Linked DNA regions of Homo sapiens: region 1 is linked to region 2. The links come from fine-mapping of genetic effects on gene expression. Tissue or cell type: whole blood. Region 2 holds a variant in brackets; the other region holds the start of a gene. All regions are shown on one strand. Distances are between the middles of the regions.

The links. PIP is the estimated chance that this variant, and not a neighbour inherited with it, causes the effect.
Region 1: DOK3 starts here. The variant in region 2 is fine-mapped to the expression of DOK3 in whole blood (TOPMed, PIP 0.93).

Annotation. Positions count from the first base shown.
Region 1 is chr5:177,505,571-177,513,616 of GRCh38, forward strand. DOK3 (docking protein 3) reads right to left here and starts at 4,256. Exons shown (of 6, transcript NM_001308236.3): 1 at 4,188-4,256; 2 at 3,905-4,087; 3 at 2,667-2,972. The coding sequence starts at 3,970. It overlaps DDX41 (DEAD-box helicase 41), which reads right to left. Exons shown (of 17, transcript NM_016222.4): 11 at 7,783-7,914; 12 at 7,441-7,512; 13 at 7,210-7,306; 14 at 6,926-7,075; 15 at 6,752-6,823; 16 at 6,526-6,636; 17 at 6,007-6,357. The coding sequence ends at 6,221. RefSeq lists enhancers at 2,512-2,621, 2,642-2,691, 4,512-4,661 and a silencer at 4,242-4,381.
Region 2 is chr5:177,483,265-177,491,306 of GRCh38, forward strand. It overlaps PDLIM7 (PDZ and LIM domain 7), which reads right to left. Exons shown (of 13, transcript NM_005451.5): 6 at 7,746-7,882; 7 at 7,606-7,642; 8 at 6,507-6,568; 9 at 6,129-6,363; 10 at 4,804-4,984; 11 at 806-926; 12 at 603-718; 13 at 130-466. The coding sequence ends at 380. Among named protein-coding and RNA genes, the nearest start is that of PDLIM7, 10 kb to the right of the region's middle. RefSeq lists enhancers at 752-1,467, 1,468-2,183, 7,510-8,042. The variant C/G (reference allele first, on the strand shown) is at 4,676.

The sequences.
Region 1 (8,046 bases), 22 kb after region 2:
GCACCACCCTGGCCCATAGCAACACAGCCGGGTCAAATGCCACAGCTTCCTCACCAGGCTCCTTGCTCCTGTCAACTGCCTTTTTTTTTGACATGGAGTCTTGCTCTGTCACCCATACTTGAGTGCAATGGCGAGATCTCGGCTGACTGCAATTTCCGCCTCCCGGGTTTGTTTTTTTTCTTTAAGATGGAGTCTCACTCTTGTCGCCCAGGCTGGAGTGCAGTGGCGCGATCTTGGCTCACTGCAAGCTCCGCCTCCCAGGTTCACGCCATTCTCCTGCCTCAGCCTCCCAAGTAGCTGGGACTACAGGTGCCCGCCACCAGGCCTGGCTAATTTTTTTTGTATTTTTAGTAGAGATGGGGTTTCACCATGTTAGCCAGGATGATCTCGATCTCCTGACCTCATGATCCGCCTGTCTCGGCCTCCCAAAGTGCTGGGATTACAGGCATGAGCCACCGCGCCCAGCCCGCCTCCCGGGTTTAAGTGATTCTCCTGCCTCAGTCTCCCAAGTAGCTGGGATTACAGGTGCCCACCACCATGCCTGGCTAATTTTTTGTATTTTTAGTAGAGACAGGGTTTTACCATATTGGGCAGGCTGGTCTCGAACTCCTGACCTCAGGTGATCCACGTGCTTCGGCTTCCCAAAGTGCTGGGATTACAGGCACGAACCTCCATGCCTAACCTCAACTGCCTTTTGTTTTTTGATTTTTAAAATATGATAAAATACAGAGAACATAAAATTTACTGTTTTAACCATCTTACTTTTTTTTTTTTTTTTGAGACAAAGTCTTGCTCTGTCGGCCAGGCTGGAATGCAGTGGTGCGATCTAAGCTCACTGCAACCTCTGCCTCCCAGACTCAAGCAATTCTGCTGCCTCAGCCTCTCAAGTAGTAGCTGGGATTACAGGCGTGTGCCACCACACCCAGCTAATTTTTGTAATTTTTTTTTAGTAGAGATAGGGTTTCACCATGTTGGCCAGGCTGGTCTCGAACTCCTGACCTCAGGTAATCCGCCTGCCTCGGCCTCCCAAAGTGCTGGGATTACAGGTGTGAACCACTACGCCCGGCCCATTTTACATCTTAAAGTGTATCATCAGTGCTCTTTTTTTTCTTTTCTTTTTTTTTTTTTTTTTTTTGAGACGGAGTTTTGCTCTCGTTGCCCAGGCTGGAGTGCAATGGCATGATCTCGGCTCACCGCAACCTCTGCCTCCCAGGTTCAAGCAATTCTGCCTGCCTCAGCCTCCCGAGTAGCTGGCATTACAGGCATGCACCACCATGCCCAGCTACTTCTGTATTTTTAGTAGAGACGGGGTTTCTCCATGTTGAGGCTGGTCTCGAACTTCTGACCTCAGGTGATCCGCCCGCCTCGGCCTCCCAAAGTGCTGGGATTATAGGCCTGAGCCACCGCACCCGGCCACCAGTGCTTTTTAGTATACTCACAAGGCTGTGCACTGTTGCCACTGTCTAGTTCCAGAACTTTTCCATCATCCCACATGGAAGCCCTGTACCCATGAGCAGCCACTCCCCACTTCTCCCTTCCTCCAGCTCCTGCCAACACTCATCTGATTTCTATCCCAATGGAGTTACCTTGTCTGTACATTTCTTTCTTTCTTCTTTTCTTTTTTTTTTTTGAGACAGGGTCTCACTATGTTGCCCAGGCTGATCTTGAATTCCTAGGCTCAAGCAATCCTCCTACCTCAGCCTCCCAAAGTGCTAAGATTACAGGCAAGAGCTACTGTGCCAGGCGTTTGTTTGTTTTTATGGCTGAGTAGTATTCCATCTTGCGGACGGACCACGTTTTGCTTATCCATTTGTCAGCTGATGGCCATGTAGGCTGTTTCCACCTTCTGGTGGCTGTGAGTAGTGCTGCTATGGACGTTCATGTCCATGTGGGTTTTTTTTTAAGATAGGGTCTTGCTCTGTCTCCCGGGCTGGAGTGAAGTGGCACGATTACAGCTCACTGCAGCCTCGACCTCTGGGGCTCATGCGATCCTCCTGCCTCACATGTACATGTTTTGTTTGAACACCTGTTCAAGTTCTCTTGGGCACACACCTAGGAGTGGACCTGTGGGCCACATGGTAACTCTGTTTACCTCTTTGAAGAACCCCCAGGCTCACTTCCTTTTGACCCATCACAGACCTTTTGGGGCTTTACAAACATGTCCGGCTTAAACCCTCCAAAGCCTTCGCCTCTCACTCAGAACAAAACCACACACATGGCCTAGGGCATTTCAGCCGCTCTCCTAAGCTCTGTGAGTTGGCTTCCTCCTGCACTCCTTTCCTTCCAGCCACGTCGCCTTCTTTCTGCCCTTAAACACCCCACACTGTCCGGCCTCGGGGCCTCTGCCCACGGGACTCCCTCTGTTCACAACTCCCCAGGCTGCCCCTGTCCTCAGACCTTTGCCCAGTGGGTTCCTGTCATTCAGGGCCCTCCTCTGAGAGGCCTTCCCTGGCCACCCTGCCCGTCGCTCCCTCACTTCCTCCTGCTCCCCTGGCGGTCCATTTTCTCCATGGCACGCACGGCCCTCTGAGAGTCATTATAGATTTACTTTTCCCAGGCTTGTAGGTGCTCGGTGGAGCTTGCTGGGTGATGGGATGTGAGCGTGGAGGTGGACAAGTCGGGGGCAGGTGCCCCAGCCCAATCGCCCCCCTGCTCGCCGCACTCACCGGGAAGGCCAGCTGGCAGATGGGGCCCATCCAGGCCTGGCGGTGCTGAGCAGCCAGTAGATGGCTTCGCTCGGTGGTGGTGAGCAGGAAGGCACCGGTGTCCCGGGGGCAGCTCTCGCCGTCAGCCGGCAGCACGGACACACAGTCAGCCAGGCGGATGACCCGTCGCTCCCCTCGCCGGCCAGGCCCTGCCGACCTGTCACCCGCTGCTCCCAGGCCACCATCCCGGACCTCCCAGCTCTCCAGCCGTGCCACGCCTGATGGGCCTCCTGCATACAGCAGAGCCCACACCTTCCGCCAGCACTTCTGCGGGAGGGGAGCGGGAGGGTGAAGACCCTTGGGTGGCAGATTGTCCGTGCCACTTGGCTCAGCACAAGCTGCTCGGCAAACGCTCCCAGCCAGGAGCGGGCCTCTGCTCCCCAGTTTCTCAGGGAGCCAGGTAAGGAGGCCTTGGCTATGCTTGGGATTGGTCAGCCCTGGGTTCAAATCCCAGCCCGCTCTTTCCTAACTGTGACCTCCACAAGCATCAATGTCGTCTCTCAAAAGGCCATGAGAACTCGAGCTGGGACTGCTACTGGGTCATGTTTGTAAAGCATCCAGTGGCCGGGCAGACCACCAGACACTGCCATTATATTGGTTCCCTCTCACCCCCAAAAAGGGGCACTTGGGCCACAGGCCAAGAGCTGGGGTGGGAGGGAGGCCTCTGCCTCAAGCTGTTAAGGAAGGAAACATGCAAATAGCTTCGAGCAAAGGAAACTGACGGTTTATCTGCCTGGGCAGCAGCTGCAGCTGAGCTGCGGGGGTGTGGGGCTGCTGCCGAGGAGAGGTGACCCCCTGCCTCCTTGCTCCCAGGACAGTGCCGCTGCAGGGAGGGGCTCCACCCTTGAGGCCTCCTCCAGCTCAGCCCCTCACCCTATTTAGGGCCCTCGGTGGCACTATTTCATGGGTCAGAGGCTGTGAAGCTCTTCCCTGCTGGGAGGTTTGAGCCTTCGACCCTCTCCCACTCCTGTATTTCCCATCTCTCCCGGAGGCAGGGTCTGGCAGAGCCTGCTCAGCCCCTGCCGTCTCAGGCTGACACCCGCACTCCATTCCACTCCCCATACCTGGGTGGGATCCTCCACCCTGACTCCCTTCCCAAGTCTCCCAGGTCTGCCTGGGCTGTCCGAGGCAGGGGCAGAGGCTGCATTCTCCACCCACTGTTGGTCCTTGGCAGCTGCCTGGCAGCCAGGGGTCCCCACCTTGCCAAACTTGACATGCTGCTGGTAGAGGATGCCATCCTTGATAGGGGTCTCCAGAGGGTCCATGGTCACGGCCAGGAGCAGGGCCGCCGCTTCAAGACCTGGGGAGACTGATGACAGGCTGGACGGGAACTCCTCACACTTCCCCTTCTGGCCACTTCCCGTCCCTCCGTCTAGAGACAGCTGCAGGCCGGGGGGAGGGGAGCCTGTCTTCAGCTCAGGGGCTGGGGGCAGCATGTATTTCCTCCCTGGGGTTCTGGCTGCCCAAGGTGCCCACACCTACCTGGAGGGAGCCCCCGGCCACCTGAAGGCAGCCTTCTCACGCACCTGGTTCAGCTGGGCACGCGCGTCTGATCGCAGTCTGGCTCCCCGAGTCATGAGTTCCCGCCCCTCCCCCGTCCCGCCCCGGGCAGCTGCGCACCCTGGGCCTGACACTCCCTGGCCCTGCCTCCACCCAGGACCCTTCTCTAGCCAACTCCTGGCTTTCCCACTCGGCGTCCTGGTTTGAGCGCCTCACCCCATCTTGCTGCTTTTCTTTCTCCCTGAAATCTCTCTCGTGTTCACCTGCTCCTCTCCACCTCACGAGCCACTGAACATCACCAGCCTTTGGCATCCCCCCAGGGGCCACTGCCCCACTGGGCCTCCATGCAGCACTCTCCACAACCCAAGACCAACCTGTCTCTCCCCTTCCTGGGGTGCAGCCCAGGCTCCTCAGCCCAACACTCAGGGACCTGTGTGTTCTGGCCTGCATCTCCCCCAGGCCAGCCCCTCCAGGGCCCCCTCACCACTGTGCTGCCTGGGGCGGTTGGCCACCTCTTCCTCCTGGAGGCCTCCCTTGACCACTCCACGCTGTCCGAGAGCTCAAAGGCCCTCACGGTATACACTCACGCTGGGCATCCAGTCCACATGGGACCCACAGCCCTGAATGGCCCCAACCACGTGAGTGTGGGTGGCAGGTCCCAGGGGGCCCCGGAGAGGTCACATGTTCATTTAAAGCTTTGCTTCCTGCTGGGGGCGCCTTTTGTTGGCTTGCCTAGCAAGATGCCAATAGCGGGGCTGTGTGTATACCTTTATTCTGGAACAGCCTCAGGTCATTCAGCACCACCTCTGGGAGAGAACATGGAAGAGGATAAGGAATGCCATTTGGGAATGCACTTGGCCAGGAAATATGTCCTGAAGGCCTCCTGGCACCCAGCTCTGTGCCCACTGTGGCCCAAGCAGCCCTAAGCTCCGTCCACCTCAGACGCCACATCCTTTGCGTTCTCATCGCCATTTCAACAGTGAGGAAATCGGTGCTCAGAAAAATTAAGTAACTTGCCCAATGCCACATATCAAGTGACAAATATGGCTTGAGCAACCGCTGTCTCACTGGAATGAGCATGTGGCCATACATGCAAAGTGCCTGGCTCAGAGGAAGTGTGGCCGCCTGTGCCGTCCCTGCCTACCTCTCACCAGATGCTGAGATCCTGCCTCATCTGCTAGCGGTCTTGTGACTGCCGTCCACGTTTCTGCGTGTGCGTCTTTCTCTCCCCTCGCCTGACGGCTTCCCAGGCAGCCATCTCCCTGGCCCATCTAGGTCCTCACAGCTCAGCAGAGCTGGGCACAGAGCAGGCTTAGGGAGAGCTTGTGGCCTAAATGGCAGTTCTATGACATCTGCTGCCTCCTCAGTCAACGGAATGGAGGGCTCCCTCCAGGTGGCTGGCACAGGCAGGCAGTGGGTGGGGGTCCTGAGGCAAGAAGCAGCCTCCCAAGGGGCTTCAGGAGAAGTCCCTGAAACATCACAGCCCTGACAGGAAGAGTGGGCCTGAGAGCTATGACAGCTGGCCAGGGAGACCAGAGAATCCAAGCACTTCTCCTTGGCCCGCCAATGTGGTCCCTCCTTGAGTCATAAATTCAGACAACCCAGTGGAGAGACCCAGAGTCCCCAGAGGCGGGCACCAGCTCGGTGGCTCCTTCCACAGCCAAGTACCAGCAGGCCAGGTGTTGGCAGTGCTAGTGGGAGATGCTGGGGCCTTGCCTCAGAGGGGCTCCAGAGGTCAGAGGTGACGTCTGTCCAGGAACCAGGGGGCGGATGAGGTGAAACACAGAGGCAGGGCCAGGGCTGGGCTAGAGGTTTGGGCTTTAATGGCAGCTGGGGTAAAAGGAAACAAAAACAGTAATTCTGAAGAGCACAGGGAACAGGCAGCCAGGACCAGCCTGGCCCATCCCAGGCCAGCTGAGCTGAAATGCTGATTCTGTCCAGGGGGCTGCTGTATGTGTAGACTGGTGGCAGTCTTGGGGACTGAGGCCTCTTGGAGAGAAGGGAAGACTGTCGGCTCAGAAGTCCATGGAGCTGTGGGCCAGGTAGTCCTTGCGACCGATGTTGCTGACCTGCTTGGTCTGCATAGCCTCGAGTTTGGGGCAGTCAGTGATCCGATGACCCAGGCCCCCGCAGAAGGCACAGCCGCGCTCTCCTGGGGGAATGGGGACAGGGGTCAGCCAAGTCAAGGACCAGGATCCATGCCCTGGACTTCGGGCCCCCCGTTAGGCACCCTCGGTCCACCGGTTTCACGTTTCTGACTTCCAGCACCCCTCCTTGCCACCTGCCGGCTGGGGACTCGGGGATCCCGCTCTGCAGTCACCTCCAATGTCCAGCATGGACTCATCCCCGCAATGCAGCACCTGCAGCACGGGCGGCACCTTCTGCTTGGCTTCTAGCAGCAGCGCTTTGAGGTCCATCAGCACTGACTCATCTGGGGGAGGAGTGGGGAAGCATCAGGGCCCATCCTGGGCTCTGTGGCCAGAACCTGGGTGGCCACAGGCAGGGGACCCAGGGAACAGCTAAGGTGGCGCTGGTAACAGACTCACCACACGCTTTGTTGATGAAGGTAGTGGCGATGCCTGTGTTTCCCGAGCGCCCGGTGCGGCCAATCCGGTGTACTGCAGAGAGAAGGACAGAGTCTCTGGCCCATCGCTGGACACTAGGGGCCTGGCTTGGCCCTTTTCCGGCCTAACCCATGCCCTTGGGCCCCAGGCTCTTACCATAGTTCTCAATCTCCTCTGGCATGTCATAATTGATGACGTGCTGGATGGCAGGGAAGTCCAGGCCCTTGGAGGCAACGTCTGTGGCTACTAGGACATCCTTCTTGCCCTCCCGGAATGCCTCGATGGCCTTAGTCCGTTCCTCCTGGTCTGGGGAGGGTCAGGCAGACACTGTCAGAGCCACCATGGGACAGGGGAGTGGCAGGCCAACCAGGCAGGGGAAGGCATTAGGTAAAGCACTGCTACTGCAGCAGGGTCCAAGCCAGTGCTTGCACCACCCTGACCTTTGCCCCCATGGATGGCTACGGCCTCAACCCCCTTGAGCAGCAGGTACTCGTGGATGGCGTCCACGTCTGCCTTCTTCTCTGCAAAGATGAGTACCTGTCCGGAAAGACCAACTCCAGTCAGGGGCTAACTGCCTGGGCACCCACCGCACCTCCCCTGGCACTCTGTCCCCTCCAAAGCCCTCCCTGGTCCTGGGGACTCTGGCCCCGGCCTGGCCTGGCTGCACTCACAGGCGGGGGTGTCTTCTGCAGGCACTCGAGCAGGTACACCATCTTGGCCTCCTCCTTCACATATTCTACCTCCTGCCACCACAAAGATCAGGTCAGGTGATCTTGAGATTAGGCTTACCCGCCACAGCCCTGCCATGGCCCGTCATCTGGACCAGGAGGTGACCAGAAGCCTCTGGCCGCCAAGGGCTGGTGCCCTAAAAATGGCCCTGGTTAAGCGTCAGGGGCTTTGAATGAAACCCCCGGTTCCCACAAGGTGGACCCCCGGCTCCAATCAGCTTCAGGGAGACTTGTCAGATCCAGCCCCCACAGGTGAGAGACCGCCCATCAGGAGCACCTGCCCACCTGGATGACATCCAGGCTGGCAGCCCCAGCGCGCCCCACATTGATGGTCACAGGCTTTACAAGGGCACTCTTAGCAAAGTTCTGAATCTTCTTCGGCATGGTGGCACTGAAGAGCAGGGTCTGTCGCTGGCCCTGAGGAAGAGGGGGGCTGCGACCAAGGGCACACAGGGCTGGGCTGAGGGGCATGGGGTCTGGGGAAGCTGAGCAACTGAGACACAGCCCACAAAGTATGAGCAGTGGGTTGGGGTGGCCAGGGGCATGGGG
Region 2 (8,042 bases):
CATGAGCCCGCCATGTCTGCATCACGAGGACCACCCAGATGGCCAGCCCAAGAAAACCATCTTACTCTCCACCCTGCCACGTGCCTCAAATTCTGCCCCTCCGGATGCACAGGGGAAGGGCACACAAGACACAGCTGGGTACAGGTTTATTGTGGCACTGGAGGTGAAAGGGGGCTGGTGTGGCCAGCACCGGTGTGCTGTGGTGGTGGAGGGAGTGGGGTGGGAGGATAAGGTGGGTGGGGCAGGGCCCAGGGAGCCCCAGGCTCGGGCCAGGAGCCAGGGTTAAGGCAACCATTGCCAGCCCTACCCAGAAATGCAGGGCCACGACTCCAGGCCCCTCAGGCTAGGGGCCACCGCGGCAGCTGTGGGCAGAAGGGGCTCACACATGAGAGAAGGCATGGCTCTTGCAGAGAGGCCTGTCCTTCTTGGAGTAGAAGGTCTTTCCTTCCAGGTTGATCTGACATATCTAAGGACAGCAAAGGCCCAGTCACATGGGGTTGGGGGCAGCAGGAGAGGCCCCTTCCCAACTTCTCCTGCATCTCCTGGGGAATGAACAGAGGGCCGGTGGGCTTGGGGCTCAGTTCGAGGGGCGGGGCTCTCACCGCACAGACGAAGCAGGTGTCATGCCAGCTGAAGCCCAGGGCCTCCAGGAAGCGGTCCCCAGCGTCGATCTTGAAGTCACAGCCATGGCATTTCGTGCCAAACATCTTCTCATAGTCTGAGAATGGGGGCAGAGAGAAAGAGGACCTGGATTCATGCCTGCCCCATGCACCATCCCTCCTCACCCTCACTGGCCAGTGGGTACCTCGCTCGCAATAGGGCACGCCCTCCTCCATGTAGAAGGCCCTGTTCCGGATGGGCGTCTTGCAGGCAGCACAGGTAAAGCAGTGCACGTGCCAGGTCATCTTCAGGGCGTGCATGATCTCCTGGAAGGAGGTCCCAGTCACTCGGCAGGCTCAGGCCCCTCCTGCCCTGCCCTGGGTCACGGGAACACAGGAGGGCTGGCCGCAAGCCCTGTTCCTTCTCGCGGTAAACACTACATCTAACTGTTCAGGACTCCCACACCTCCATCTCCAACTCCAAGGTCTCTGAGTGGACGACCACTGCGCCTTCAGACTTGCCATGTCCAGCACTCAGTTCCTGATTCCCTCACCCCAAACCTCTCCTCCCACAGCCATCCCCATCACGCGGATGGCAACTCCATTCTCCTGTCTGCTGCAGCCAAACACACCCTCCTCTCACACCCCACACCAGGTCCACCAGGAAATCCAGTGGGGCCCACCCCCAAGGCACATCCAGATTCTGAGTGCTTCTCACAGCCTCCCTGAAGTGAGGTAAGCCATGGCCATCTGGCCCGTGGGACCACATAACAACTGGCCTACAAGCTCCTCTCTCTGATCCCAGCTGCCACAGCGTGCCCCTGCAACCCAAGACAGGCCTTCTCCCCCTGCATGAAACTGTGTACTGCTTCCCATTGCTCCCAGCAAGAGCCAAGCCCCATGCAGAGGCTGGAGGCCAGCAGGTCTGACCTCGTTCCCAACCGTCTCCGCCACTGCTCTCCCTTGCGTTCTCACCTTGCCTCTGCACACTGGCCTCTTGCCTGAAACTGGCACACCAGGCACACTCCTGTCCTGGGCTTGACACCGGCTGTCCCCTCTGCCTGGACTGCTCTGCCCCAGATATCTCTAGGCTCACCCCTCACCCCCTTCAAGTTTCTGCTCGAATGCAGTCTTCTCCATGAGGGCCCACTCTGACCACACCAGCAGCAGCCAGCTGCCTTCCCTGCACCACGCACCCCAGCACTTGTCGCTCTGCTCTTTCCTGTTTTCCGTAACGTGATCTAACATTACTTCCAGGCAACCTACTTATTGCGCTTATTGCTTACAGTCTGCCTCTCCCCTCTTCTTCCAGCCAAAATGTAAGGCCCAGAAGGGCAGGAAGCATCAACTGTTTTGTTAGCTGATCTATCCCCACAGTGCCTGGCCCTTTGTGGGTGAGTCGACTGGCCTCCGCAGGAGGTGGGAAGGGGCAGAGGCACAAGGGGCTGAGCTCTCCCTGGGCTGGGCTGTTCATCCCTAGGACCCTCGGGGCCAGCCGGGGCCAGCCAGGGCCAGCAGTATTCACATCTGGAGCAGGCAGAGGGCAGCATGGGGCCTCGAGGCGGTATGAGGGTCCAAGATGTGTGGGTCTGGCCAGACCTTGACCTTCTCAAGTCTTGGTTTCTTCCCTTGTGAACTGGGAAGCTAATCCCAGCCTTGTGAGGCTGTTATGAGGATGGCCCTGAGTTTAAATCCAGGGATCCCAGATCCAATCCCTGCAAGGGCCAAGTGGGGACTGTGTCACACGGAGGAGGACCTCTTCTTCTGGGAGCAGTACTACTGGTTCATTCAGGAATGCCTGCCTGGCTCAGGCTGAAATCTAGGTGTTAAAGAGAAATCTGCTGGGCGCAGTGGCTCACGTCTGTAATCCCAGTGCTTTGGGAGGCCAAGGTGGGAGGATCGCTCGAGGCCAGGAGTTCGAGACCAGCCTGGGCAACATAGCAAAACCTCATCTCTACAAAAAGATTTAAAAATCTGCTGAGCATGCTGGTGGGCACCTCTAGTCCTAGCTATTTGGGAGGCTGAGGTGGGAGGATCCTCTGAGCCCAGGAGATCAAGGCTGCAGTGAGCAGTGATCATGCCACTGCACTCCAGCCTGGGCAACAGAGCAAGACCCTATCATTATACATAAAGAAATAAAAAGCAGGAGATCTCACTTTCCCTCTGCCTCCCAAGTAGCTGGGACCACAGGTGCATGCCACCACACTTGGCTAATTTTCTAATTTTTTTTTTTTTGTAGAAACAGGGGTCTTGCTATGGTGCCCATGCTGGTCTTGAACTCCTGGGCTCAAGCAATCCTCCCACCTTGGCCTCCCAAAGTGCTGGGATTACAGGCATGAGCCACTGCATCATGCAGGCAAATCTTCTGATTTTTTAAATTGTTTGCTACTGATTTTAAAATGAAACAGTGTGGGCCAAGCAAGACATAAGTGTGGGGGACATGTAGCCTTCGGATGGTGCATTTCTGCCCTCCACAACACCTGTACCCCATCTTACATCTACCTTGCAACCGTGCCGGCCCTAGCATAGTGCCACCCTTCTCTTCAGTGAGGCCCAGAGAGAGCAACTAGCCCCTGCTCACACAGCCAGTAGATCACAGAAATAGGTTTTCTGCCCATGTCTGGCTGGCTCTTCTCACTGTCTGGTGTTGCCTGTTTTAGAGGAGCAGACAAGGTCACAGTGAAGGAACTTGGGCTTTGAGCTGGTGGGAGAGGGGGCTCTACCAGGGGTGTGGGCTGGTAGGGCAGGAGCCCAAGGCTGGGAGGCAGATTTCTCTTTCTTTTTTTCTTTTTGAGACAAGAGTCTCGCTCTGTCGCCCAGGCTGGAGTGCAGTGGCGCGATCTCGGCTCACTGCAAGCTCTGCCTCCCAGGTTCACGCCATTCTCCTGCCTCAGCCTCCCGAGTAGCTGGGACTACTCCACCATGCCCGGCCAATTTTTTTGTATTTTTAGTAGAGATGGGGTTTCACCGTGTTAGCCAGGATGGTCTCAATCTCCTGACCTCGTGATCCGCCCATCTCGGCCTCCCAAAGTGCTGGGATTACAGGTGTGAGCCACCGTGCCTGGCCCTTTTTTTTTTTTTTTTTTTTTTTTTTTTTTTTTTTTGCTGTCTCCCAGGCTGGAAGGCAGTGGCACAATCTTGGCTCACTGCAACCTCCACCTCTCAAGATCAAGCGATTCTCCTGCCTCAGCCTCCCAAGTAGCTGGGACTACAGGTGCGCCAGCACACCCAGCTAATTTTTTTATTTTTAGTAGAGACAGGGTTTCACCATATTGGCCAGGCTGGTCTTGAACTCCTGACCTCAGGTGATCTGCCCACCTCGACCTCCCAAAGTGCTGGGATACAAGCATCAGCCACTGCATCGGCCACTCTCCCATTCTTGCCGACTGATGGAACCCCCAGTTTTGCTGGACACATGGGTGCCCAAAATAAAGACTATATTTCCCAGCCTCCGTTGCCACTGGGTGTGGTCATGTGACTGGGTTCTGACCAACAGGATGAAAGCAGAGGTTCAGGTGGCAGCATCCTCTAAGGATGGACGCCATGGGGCTCTGTCCCCTTTCTTCTCCTTCCGACTTCCTGCTGGCTGGAAGGTGAGCATTTTGGCGGAGGCTGAAGTGTCATCTTGCACCATGAGTGGTAAGTAAGCAGGTGCTGCCAACAGTCAAGCAACAAGGCGGAGCCTGGGTCCACCAGATCAGTCCCAGACCACCCACCCCGGGATGTTTTTAGATGAGAAATAAGCCACCATTATTTTGAGTTTCCCACTGCTCGTGGTCAAGGTAAACCTCACTAATATGAACATCACCACACAGAGCTCTCTGGCTACTCCTGGCAGCCCTGGCTCTGGATCCAGAAATGAGGAGGACGCATGAGACAGAGCAGCTTCAGCGTGTCAAGTTGGCCGTTCTGTCATTTCACCAGGGCAGGGAGAGCCCAAAGTGGGAGTCAGGAGGGCCCAGGGCTTCTCCTGGCTTGGTCCTCCTGCTCTTTGCAGCCTTGGGCGGTTTCTGAGCAGGAACATGGTCATTTGTTAAGAGCATCCTGACTAATGCAGGGTGAGGCCAGTACAGCAG[C/G]CCATTTATTACGCTGGTAAGGACCCGGAGGGCTCACTCGGGGAGAGACCTGGACTGTGGGTTTCCCAGCAGCCCTCGTTCCCACTGACAGGCTTGGGACCACCTCCCCGCCAGCCAGCCCTACTCACGCCTGTAATCTTCTTCTTGCACTTGGCACAGCTGGGTGCATAGCGCACGTCATAGCATGGTGGGCAGAAGATGGCGCCCTTCTCCTCAAAGAAGCCACCCTCTTCCAGGACCTTCCCACACTGGCTACACACAAACTCCTCCGGGTGGTACGCGTGGCCCAGCGCCACCAGGTAGCGGCCCCTGCAGGGAGGCGAGAGCGGTCAGAGGGAGCACACGCAGAGAGGTGGGGGTCTTGGCCCCCTTCAGGTTGACTGACCACCCACCAGGAGGCCTTGGGAGGGACAGTTCATTCTCCCCATTTTCCACATAGGATAGAAGACAGGCTTGGGAAGTGACCGTGGCAGCCGTGAAGCTTACAGAGCCAGTCCGCCACACTGAACTGCTGGTGACAGGAGAGGCAGCTTTAGAGCAGGGAGGACCCCGGGAGGAAGGGCTGACGACTGGAGCCTCATAAAAGCTGAGCCGCCCCTGGGCAAACCCTGGAGCTGCCCTGTCCTGCTGGCCTGCCTGTTCTACCTGGCAAGAGCTGATAGAGTCGGCTGGGCACAGTGGCTCACACCTGTAGTCCCAGCACTTTGGGAGGCCAAGGCAGGCCTGAGATCACCTGAGGTGAGGAGTTTGAGACCAGCCTGGCCAACATGGTAAAACCCCGTCTCTACTAAAAATACAAAATTAGCCAGGCATGGTGGCGGGTGCCTGTAATCCCAGCTACTCAGGAGGCTGAGGCAGGAGAATCTCTTGAACCCAGGAGGCAGAGGTTGCAGTGAGCCGAGATCGCGCCACTGCACGCCAACGTGGGCAACACAGTGAGACTCTGTTTCAAAAAAAAAAAAAAAAGAGCTGACAGAGATGAGAGCAGGCCAGGCCTGCGAATTAGGAAGGCTCTAGAATCCGGCACGCTGATGCTGGGGGGTGTTTGATGCTGCTTGGCCCCACGGGGCAGTGCACAGAGGGAGTGGCTCCAGGCCTGTATGCTCTGAGAGCAGAGGGAGACAGAGAGCAGGAGGGAGGGGCAGACGCGCTGGGAGGGGGCAGGCCCCTCTTTGCCCAGAGAGCAGCAAAGGTAGGGGTGCAGCTTCAGCCTATGGTTGGCCCTTCGGCTATTTCGCCACGGCAGATGCTGCTAGCAGTTGTTGTGGGTGGGCTGGGGTAGGTAGCGTGGGATTAAGAATGGGAGGACCCAGCCCAGGTCCCTACTCCTACTCCAGCTGAGAACTGAATCCTTATTCCCCCCAGTCGCAGCTGAGGCAAGACAGGTGGGCAGACAGGTGGGGCTGGGCTGCAGGATGGGAAAGCCAGGGTCGGACAGGAACAGGCCACCCACCGGATGACCTTGTGGCACTGGTGACACACGGGAGTCTTGCCGTTGTTGCTGCCCCCTCCTGGCACCCCTCCGGCAGCTGCCTGCACAATGGAGGTGCGGCTCTGCAGCGGCGTGGGCGTGGCCGGCTGGCTGTGCCGGGTCAGCACTGTGCTCGTTTTGTCCGGGGCATAGCGCTCGGCAAACGCAGGGTCCACAGCCCAGGGCGGGCGGCTGGTAGGGCTGGGGGCGGTAGGGCCTGCCGGGGAAAGTGACTCTAAAGGGGTGCCCAGGGACCCCAAAGGACGGGGGTGGAGCCCCAGGCAGCTGAGAGAAGCCCACCACCCCCATGCCCCTGGAGGCTGCCCACCCTTGCCCAGGCCCGAGCCCACTCCCTCTCACCAGGCCAGGGCTCCTGGGGTGTAGATGAGGCTGGGGCTGGGGCTTCTGTCCTGGGCACCTGGCTGCAAGATCTGCCATTCAAGGCCCTGCATGGCTGAGCTTCCTGACATGGCCCCACCCCCCAACCTGGGTCCTGCTGGCCCCACGGGAGATGACTGGGGGCGTGGAAACTGCCGAGTTGGATTCCAGGTCCCACTGGGGTAGGGATGGGAAGGGCAGCTTCTCCTAGCAATGTCCAGTTAGCTGGTGTGCGGTCTCTAGCTGGGAGACGAGGCAGGGCTCCCGCTTCTGAGGCAGCTCCTGGGGTTCCCCTCATGCCAGGAAGCCATCTGTGATGGCAGGGCAGGGCCCCTTTGCCAGGTACCCCCTCCCACTGAAAACGAGGACGGCAGGGCCCAAACAGTCCGAACCACGAAACACCCCCACACCCCAAATGCAAACCAGGTCCACAAAGATAGAAGACAGGCAGAGCAAGCAGGGCTGAGAATGTTTATTCCATGCCCAAGGCAGCACAGACCTGGCAGACAGCAGTACCACAGGGCAAAGAGGGAAGGCAGTGTCAGATGAACCCAGGTGGGCGGCCAGGGCCAGGCCAGCAGGAGGCTCAGGCCAGGGGCACGAAAGGGGGGGTGAGGTAGGCAGAAGCTGGAGGCACTAAGGGGGTGCCCTGGGCAGGAGGAACAGAAAGAGGGAGGCAGAGAGGGCAGCCGGCTGGAGAGGGCCGGGCTACGACTGCACGTTGAGCACGTGGGCAGAGCGCTGGTGGTGCCAGTCCCGGAGGCGGGTGTAGCGTGGGCTCTGCAGCTCCAGGACATACTTTTCCCTGAGGGGCAGAGAGAGAGGGAGGAAGAAGTGGAAGGAAGGAGAGATGGAAGGGAGGCAGGGAGGGAGGAGGGAAGGAAGGAGGGAGGGAAGAAATGAAAGAAGGAAGGAAGGAGGAAGGGAAGGAAGGAAGGAAGGAAGGAAGGAAGGAAGGAAGGAAGGAAGGAAGGAAGGGAGAATTGAGAGCCCCAGCTGGGAGCCTCAGGAGTAGACACAGGGCAGTAGCTGGAATGGAAGAGGCAGGAGGTGGGAGAGGGGCTGGTGCCCGTCCCTGTACCTTGATTTCTTCAGGTGCTCCTCATCCGGGTCTTGCACTGAGAGGGCAGAGGCAGGCATTGACCAAAAAAGACACAGGGTCAGGGATCACGCCTGGGCTGGGGGCGAGGAAAGTACCCCCTGCCCTGGGCTGGCACTTACTGAACTCGGTGCCTGTGAGGTGGGCAAGGATGCGGAAGGAACGCGACTGGCCTGTCCCCGGCCGCGGCCGCCAGTCCTCTGTGTTCTCCATCAGCCGCTGCTTGCTGGCATCTGGGACCAGCGGTCGGAGCGGCTGTCTGTGGGGAGGGTGTGGCTCAGAACCCCACACTGGGGGTGGGCGGTGGGGGCAGCCCCTCCCAGGATTTGGTGCATGTGGGTTTGGGTTACAGTGATGGGAGGGAGTGGGTAAGGGTGAGGCCAGGAGCCCTGCTGGGCGGGTAGGTGAGAGGACAGGAG